Regions from separate parts of the Homo sapiens genome. Here all the other regions are linked to region 1. The links come from fine-mapping of genetic effects on gene expression. A gene starts in region 1. Each other region holds a variant in brackets. All regions are shown on one strand. Distances are between the middles of the regions. Region 1 holds the start of ACTR8 (actin related protein 8). Region 2 overlaps CHDH (choline dehydrogenase). Region 3 has its middle 14 kb from the start of SELENOK.

The links.
Region 2: its variant is fine-mapped to the expression of ACTR8 in CD4 T cells (BLUEPRINT, PIP 0.95).
Region 3: its variant is fine-mapped to the expression of ACTR8 in monocytes after Pam3CSK4 (Quach 2016, PIP 0.95).

What each region holds. Positions count from the first base shown.
Region 1 is chr3:53,880,816-53,883,575 of GRCh38, forward strand. It overlaps ACTR8 (actin related protein 8), which reads right to left and starts at 1,337. Exons shown (of 13, transcript NM_022899.5): 1 at 1,164-1,337. The coding sequence starts at 1,286. RefSeq lists silencers at 964-1,073, 1,464-1,553 and an enhancer at 1,224-1,303.
Region 2 is chr3:53,835,973-53,838,735 of GRCh38, forward strand. All of the region lies in intron 2 of CHDH (choline dehydrogenase), which reads right to left. Among named protein-coding and RNA genes, the nearest start is that of CHDH, 9.1 kb to the right of the region's middle. The variant C/T (reference allele first, on the strand shown) is at 1,575.
Region 3 is chr3:53,904,692-53,907,454 of GRCh38, forward strand. No RefSeq gene overlaps it. Among named protein-coding and RNA genes, the nearest start is that of SELENOK, 14 kb to the left of the region's middle. The variant C/T (reference allele first, on the strand shown) is at 1,138.

The DNA.
Region 1 (2,760 bases):
AATCACCTTCAGGACTCTAAACAGATGTCACCTCACCTCCTTTGAAGAAACCCTCCCTGACTGTCGGGGATGGAGGAGGTACTTGCTTGAGTGCCCAATACTGCCCTCTGCACAAGCCCATTCCATGCCATGCTCTGATACCTGTTGTCCTATCTCCAAGTGTGACCTCTCTCCTCCTAATCACCCCCCACAGAGTGGGAGAATCCTAGAGGGAAGGATCTGGCAAGGCCCTTACAGACCATCCAGTCAGCCTTCTCAACTAGACAGATGGAGAAACCAGGCCTGTGCAACAGTAATGGCCACTCTGGGCTTACGGTGTGCCAGGCACTGTCATACTAGTGATAACTAACTAGTAGCTGCCCTACTAGTTAGGTATTATCCTTAACCCATCTACCGGTAAGGAAGCTGGATCAGAGATGTCCTACATGAATTTCTGAGCAGTTTATGCCTCATTTCTTCTGTGAATTGTACACTGCCTGTGCCCGTTTTCCTACGTGAATGCTGTTTTAGTTACTGATCAGTAAGGTTTTGTGTATGTGTATACATCTAAGGTCCTCTGCCAGGCACGCTACTGCAAATAATTTTTTCTGGTTAGTTTAGTTTGGTCTAATAGTGTTGTTTTTGATACACAAGCTCTTAATATATATTTAGACAAATGTCCACCATTTCCTTGCTTTTAAGCTTGAAATGACTTCCATTATCTGAGATTTCCTTAACAAAGGAAAAAGCCTGGACCCCAAACTATCCCTTAACAAGCACAGGCTGACGCTCCCAGTGAGCCAGCCTGGTCCTAAACTCTATCTGCCACCATTTAACCCTCACGGCAACTTGCGAGGCGGCTGGTTATCACCGTGGTCGTTTTATGGTCGGGGAAGCTGAGGCCAGAGCCCGGGCAGGAGCGCACACAACCAGACGGTGGGGCGTGCGGGAGATCGGAGCGGTGTCCCTGCGGGGGCTCCGCCTGGCTCCTGGCGCTCCGCACCTCCCAGCCCTCGGCGTCCCGGCGCGCCACCACCCGGAAAAGAACGACCGCTTCCGCACTCCCCCCACCAGGGGCTGGGGCCTGCAAGGGGGACTCGAAGCCTCCCGCCGCCTCCCGCCCCTTGCCTGGCAGCGGAGGACCCAAGCAAGGGCAAAGAGTTCCAACCCAGCCAGAGCCGCACCTCTTGCAGCGACTCCGGCACCAGCGCGGGCACGATGGGCCGCTTCACGCCGCGCTGCTCCTTCTCCTTCTCGCCGCCCTTCTCCTTTCCGTTCTCCGTATCACCCTTCTCAGCCTGGGTCATTATGGCCGGAGACACCCACCAACCTCTCGCCTCAGCGCTGCAGCCACGACTGCCGGGATGGAAGGGCCACCGCGCAGGCGCACGGCCGGCTGCCCACAGTCAAGATGGCCGCCGCGGAGTCGCCCCAGAGGGCTCCGAAAAGGCGGGGGTGGGGCTGCCCGGCGCAGGGGCTGGGGGCGGGGTGTGCATGCGGATTGATTGGGTGGGTGTTGCTGTGATTAGTCCTGACTGTGTAGATGCCAGCAACATAGTACACATAGCTTTTCGAGCGCCTAGTGGGGGTCGGCTGATAACCCGCATCTTATTTCGTCCTCACAGGCATCTCTTCTCCTGGCTTCCCAGATACCATATGTACTCTTAGTTTTTCTCATATGTCTTCATGTTCAGTCCAGCCTCTGATGTTGGGGTTAGGTCTTTTCCAGGCACACTCCTTGGGTGACTATCCAGTTTCCTGGCTTTAGCAATGAATACGATTCCCAAATATATATATCCAGGATGAACCGCTCAGAGAGATCCGTACTGATAACCAGTGCCTACTTGGTCTCTCCATCTGGATTGTCTACAAGGCACTGCAAACTTAAATATGTCCAAAATTTAACTCTTGATTCCCTCCCCTCTCACTTTCACCATCTCAGTAAATGTCATTTTGATTCTTCACTTGTTGACAGCTTCTACATCCAATCCATCAGTAAATCCTGCAGTCTCTAAAATAGATCTTGAATTCATCCACTTCTCCATTCCCATGCCACTACCTAGCCCAAGCCACTATCATCTCACCTGGATGACTACAACAGCCTCTTAACTCGAACTCCTTGTCCTGTCCCCCTATGATCTGTTCTTATATAGTTGCCCACGTTGTTTTAAAATATTACGTAGTTAATACTACTATGTACCCAGCACTCCACTAAGACTTACCTCAAAAATTAGATGTCACTCATGCTTTAAACTCTAATGGTTTCCCTTTGCTCAAAGAACAGAATCTAAACTAACCACCACCTAAAGACCATATCTAGTTATTGCTACATTTCTAAGTTCACCTCACAACACTCTCCCCATTCCTTGGCATTTCCAGCTACACCTGTTTTATCTTTCTCAGACATGCCAAGCCCTTCCCGTCATCGGGCTGTTGCACTTGCTGTTCATTTTGCCTTGGATGCTCTTCCCTCAGCTGTCTCATTCTCACGTCTGAACTCAAATGTCACCTCAGGCCTTCCGCAGTTATTCTCTCATCATCCTATTCCCTTTGAAGCATGAAGCATTAGTCTGTAATTATCATGCCTGCTCACTGTCTCCCACACTAGAATGTAAGCTCCGTGAGACTTTGCCAGTTATCTTCAGCACATGGTAGGTGCCCAATAAGCATGTGATGACTAAATACTAAATAAAGAACTCTTGGAGGTAAAAATTTAATCCCCGTTTTACAGGTGAGTGAAGTGGGATAAAATGGCATAATTCACTCAAGATCATAAGCTAT
Region 2 (2,763 bases), 45 kb before region 1:
TAGTCAGCATGCAAAAAGGTGCAAGACACCAAGTTCCCATGCCAGGGGTCTCAAGCCAAGAAGGCTTGGCTGCTTTCCTACAGCCCAGCAGAGCCTCCCAGGAGCACAACCGTCTGAATACCCAGCCCTGTGGTGGGCTGAGGGGAGTGCAGTGCAGTGGCCCAGGGTGGGAAGGATCCCAGTTTGAGAATGAGACCTGGCTGGGCCCAGAGGCGGTGGTGGTCCAGGGAGTAACCCTGGGCAGCTGCTCCTCCTCTCTCAGGAATCTCATGCCACCCCCAACCCAGGCCTCCATCTCCCTAAGACAGTGGGACAAGCTTCCTCATGGCCCCCCAGGCCCTCTTGTCCTAAGCCCGACCAGGCCAGGCCCCGGCCTCTGTAGCCATCATCCCACTGTGAGCATCGCTCCCTGGGATCCAGGTGCATGGTCCACCTTCCCTTCCTCCCCAGGGCCTTTGCACATGCTGTTCTCTCCTCCAGGTACAGGTGCTAACCTCCTTTCACCTACTCACTCCTCACCTTCCCTCAGGCATGGATTGCCCTCCTCACCACTGACCACATCCATCCTGGGACTTCTCTGTGCCACTTACTGGGACCTCAACAGGCTAATAGTGAGATGAGCTGTGGAAAGCCCACATCCCTGGCTGAGGGCTCCACGCCCTTGCCTCCCACCATGTGCTGAGCTTGGCCTGAGGCTGGCGCTGCGTCATGCTGGCCAAGGGGACACATGCAGGGGATGAGGCTGCACGTGGCCTACAGCAAACCCAACCTGCGCAGTCTGAGATGTGGATGCTGAGCTCATACACCTGTGCCAGGACCAACAGAAGGCACCCCCTGGGAATGTTCTAGATCCAGACCTGGTGATGGTTACCCAGGCATACACACAGATCAAAACCAACATGATGGACACTTCGTATGTCTGTTGCACCTCAATTAAAATGTTTAAAACAATTTTTTGAAAGCATTTTCTGGGCTGAGGCAGGATTGCTTGATGCAGTTGAGGAGTTGAAGACCAGCCTGGGCAACATAGCAAAACCCAGAAATTTTTTCTAAAAAAAAACTTGTTTTTTAATTAGCCAGGCACGGTGGTGTGTACCTATAGTCCTAGCTACTCAGAAGGCTGAGGCAGGAGAATCACTTCAGCCCAGGAGTTCAAGGCTGCAGTGAGCTAGCACTGTTCCACTGTACTCCAGCATGGGCAATAGAGCAAGACCCTGTCTCTAAAAGAAAAAAAAAAAAGGGCATTTTCTTTAGTGTCAAGTTTCTCTTTCCAGGAATCTCATCTCCCACATATTGATACATAATTAACAACTGAATTGGAAACTGCTACCTGGGAGATGATTCTGGACAGTGTGGACGAGGCCATACCACTTGGCCCCTTGTGCCCTGGCTGCTCGGGCGTAGCCCACCTGCCCTCTGGATCCTCTTGGTAAAAAGGGGCAGATGGGACTGGGCTGAGGCTACAGGCTGCCAACAAAACCCGAGGTGGAGCCCTGAAGTCTGACATCGCATCAGAGCTCTGCCAGGCCGCACCGTGTGACCCAGGGCAGGGTTTCCTGTTGGTAAGGCGTGGG[C/T]GCTGGCCTCTGCGGGCACCTCCGATGCCTGTGGCTCCTCTGAAGTAAGTCTGCCCTCCTGCCTCCCCTCTGCTGCCCCACTGTGGGTGCTTCCTCAGCCTGGGAACCTTGTGCTCCACATTCCAGGCCTCTGCCCTCTGCACACATCCCTCCACTCTCTAGCTGCTTCACCACTTTCTAAAACCTTCACGGTGGTCTATACCAAAAGCAGAGTGTATGTAAGGTGGGAGGCCGGGCGCGGTGGCTCACATCTGTAATCCCAGCACTTTGGGAGGCTGAGGTGGGCAGATCACCTAAGGTCAGGAGTTCAAGACCAGCCTGGCCAACATGGCAAAACCTCATCTCTACTAAAAATACAAAAATTAGCCGGGTGTGGTGGCACACGCCTTGTAGTCCCAGCTACTCGAGGCTTAGGCAAAAGAATCGCTTGAACCTGGGAGGCACAGGTTGCCATGAGCCAAGATCGTATCACTGCACTCCAACCTGGGCGACAGAGTGAGACTCTGTCTCAAAAAAAAAAAAAAAAAAAAAAAAAAAAGAGACTGTAAGATTGGAAACCTGGAGTTCTAACACCCAGGCAAGGGTGGGGGGCCCAGGCCGCTCAACCTCCACGGATGGCTCCTCAGGGTAACCTACTATTTCTTCTCCCTTGCAGGCGTGTCTGTGGATCCAGTCTGTGCAGGTGCTGCGGGCGCCCAGCCATGGGTAGGAGGCAGGGTACAACAGAGGTCGCTGCTGGGGAGACCCGAATCCCTTAGGGGCCCCTCCCAGAGTCAAGCACCTGATAGACTAGGGGATGGGGGATACAGTGCCTCAGGCTGGCCCCTGAGGAAGACTGGCCACTGTGCTCCAGATGTGTACTCCCTGCACTCTGGGCTGCACTGTGCCTGGGTGAGTGGCATCTGCAGCACAGAGGGCCTCGGGTGAAAGTAGGGAGGTGGGTATGGGTAACCCGGAGCACAGCCAGAGGCAGACCGAGGGGATAGAAGGCGCTGGTGTCCCAGCTCTTATGCAGTCACATAGCAGCAAAAGAAAGACAACTGCTGTTCCCTCTCCAGGGGAGATGAAGGCTCTCCTCATGGGCAGGCTTCAGAGGCCAGGAGTTACCAAGCTCCCACCTGGCAGAGCCCATCATGGAGCTGCTCTTCCTGCCATGTGCATTCACTTACAGACAGCAGTGGGGGAGAGC
Region 3 (2,763 bases), 24 kb after region 1:
GCCTCAGGCAGTCAGTAACAGTTGGGGTAGACAATAGGCTAAACAGAAAGCTTAAAAGGAAAACTGGGCAATGAGATATCCACAGGGCCTTTGAAAAGCCCTGACATATTCTTAGGAATCTACAAGGCCACCTGCATGAATAGGGCTGTGTACATGCTGAAGAAAAACTTGATATTACTTCTAGATGGTGAGATTAAAAAAATAATAAGCAAACTGAGTAGGTCCCAAGCTCTCACATCTGGCCAGTTTTGAGATGGAACAAGCAGGAAGTGAAGGATAAGGCAGAATTGCCAATTACCCAATTGAATGTTGAAGGCATGCCCCAACACACACCCAGATCCCTTCTGCAAAAAGTGGCAGACTTATTGGTTCCAGAGCTTTAAATCTCTGTCTAGTCATTAGCTGACTACTAAGCTAACTGAGCAGAGACATCAGTAGCTATATATGACAAAGAATACAGCCTTTACAGCATTGGTTTTAAAAAGTCACTAAACAACTTGGAGAAGGAAGAAGAATCTCATTTTCAGAATTGCCACATTATATTATTTAAAATGTCAATTTTTCAATAAAAAGTTATGAGATATGCAAAGAAGAATACATGGACCATAGAGAGGAAAATAAAAATAACTCCAATAGAAACTGTTCCCAAGGAAGCCTGGATGTTGGACTTAGTAGATAAAGATTTTAAGACTGGGCATGGTGGCTCATGCCTGTAATCCCAGAAATGTGGAAGGCCAAGGCAGGAGGATAACTTGGGCCCTGGAGTTCCAGTTTGAGACCAGCCTAAGCAATATAGTGAGATCCCATCTCTACAAAAAAAAATTTGTTTTAATTAGCTGGATGTGGTGGTATGTGCCTGTGGTCCCAGTTATTCAAGAGGCTAAGGTGGGAGGATCACTTGAGCCTGGGAGGTCAAGGCTGCAGTGAGCTGTGATTGTACCACTGCACTCCAGCCTGGATAACAGATTGAGACTCTGCCTCAAAAAAAAAAAAAAAAAAGAAAAAAAAGATTTATGGGCAAAGAAGCAAAGCAAAGCAAAGAAGCAAAGCAAGCAATGTCTAAAGAATGAAAAAGGCCAGACATGGTGGCTCATGTCTGTAATCCCAGCACTTTGGGAGGCTGAGGCAGGTGGATCA[C/T]GAGGTCAGGAGATTGAGACCATCTGGGCCAATATGGTGAAACCCTGTCTCTACTAAAAATACAAAAATTAGCTGGGTGTGGTGGTGCACACCTGTAATCCCAGCTACTTGGGAGGCTGAGGCAGGAGAATCACTTTAATTTGGGAGGTGGAGATTGCAGTGAGCTGAGATCACACCACCGTACTCCAGCCTGACGACAGAATGAGATGCTGTTTAAGAAAAAGAAAAAAAAGAAAAAAAAAAGAAAGAAAGTATGACTGATTGACTGATGTTTTGACAAATAGAAATATCAATAAAGAGATCAAATTTTGTTTAAGAAGAGAGAACCAAATAGAAATTCTAGAGTTGAAAATATAGAAACTGAAATAAAAATCCACTAGAGTGGCTCAACAGCAAACTTGAGCAGGCAGATGAAACAATCAGTGAACTTGATAGATTGAGATTATCCAATCTAAGGAACATAAAGAAAAAAGAATGAAGAAAAGTGAACAGTTTTTAGAGACCTGTAGGACACCATCAGTCATACAAACATATGCATAATGGGAGTCTCAAAAGAGAGGTGGGAAAGAGGGATAAAGAATATTTGAAGAAATAATGGCCAAAAACAGTTCAAGTTTGATGAAAAATATTTGTCTATGCACCCAAGACCTAAAATAACTCCAAATAAAATAAAACCAAAGAAATCCATACCTAGATACATGATAATCAAACTGTGTTGAATCTTTAAAGCAGCAAAAGAGAAGTGACTCATCACACACAAGGAATTCTAAATAAGATTAACACGTGATTTCTCACCAGAAATCACGGAGGCCAGAAGGCAGTGGGATGATATATTCAAAGTGCTGAGAGAAAAAGATTGTGAATCAAGAATTCCATATCTAGAAAAACTATCCTTCAAAAATGAATGAGAAAATAAGACATTCCTGTATAAACATATCCTGAGAGAATTCATTGCTTTAAAATCTGCCCTACAAAAAAATACTAAAGGGATTAATGCAGACTGAAATGAGAGGACAGTAAGCAATAACTCAAATCCACATGAAAAATAAAAAGCACTGGTGTGTTAGTTTCTGAGGGCTGCTGTAACAAATTACTACAAACTGGGTGGCTTAAAACAACAGAGATTTATTCTCTCACAGTTCTAGAGGCTAGAAATTCAAAATCTGGCAGGGACACATTTTTTCCAGGGCTCAAGGGAAGAACCCATTCCTTGCCTCTTCCAGTTTCTTATGGCTTGCCCAGAATTCCTGGGCTTATAGTTACATCAATCCAATCTCTGCCTTGTCTTCACATCACCCTTTCCTCTGCGTCTGTCTTCTCCTGTGTGTGTGTATTATAAGGACACTTGTTAGATTTAGGGCCCACCTGGATGATCTCATCTCAAAATCCTTAACTGTCTTACATCTTCAAAGATCTTTTGTTTTTTCTTTTTCAAATAAGGTAACATTTTCATAGGTTTTGGGGTTTGAGACATGGACATATTTGTAGGCGGCCACCATTTGCCCCTCTACAATCAGTAAAGGTAACTACATAGGTAAATAAAAAACACAGTGTAAGTATATTTTTGTAACTTTTTCCTCTTAACTAATTTAAAAGATAAGTGCATTAAACAATAATTATAAAATC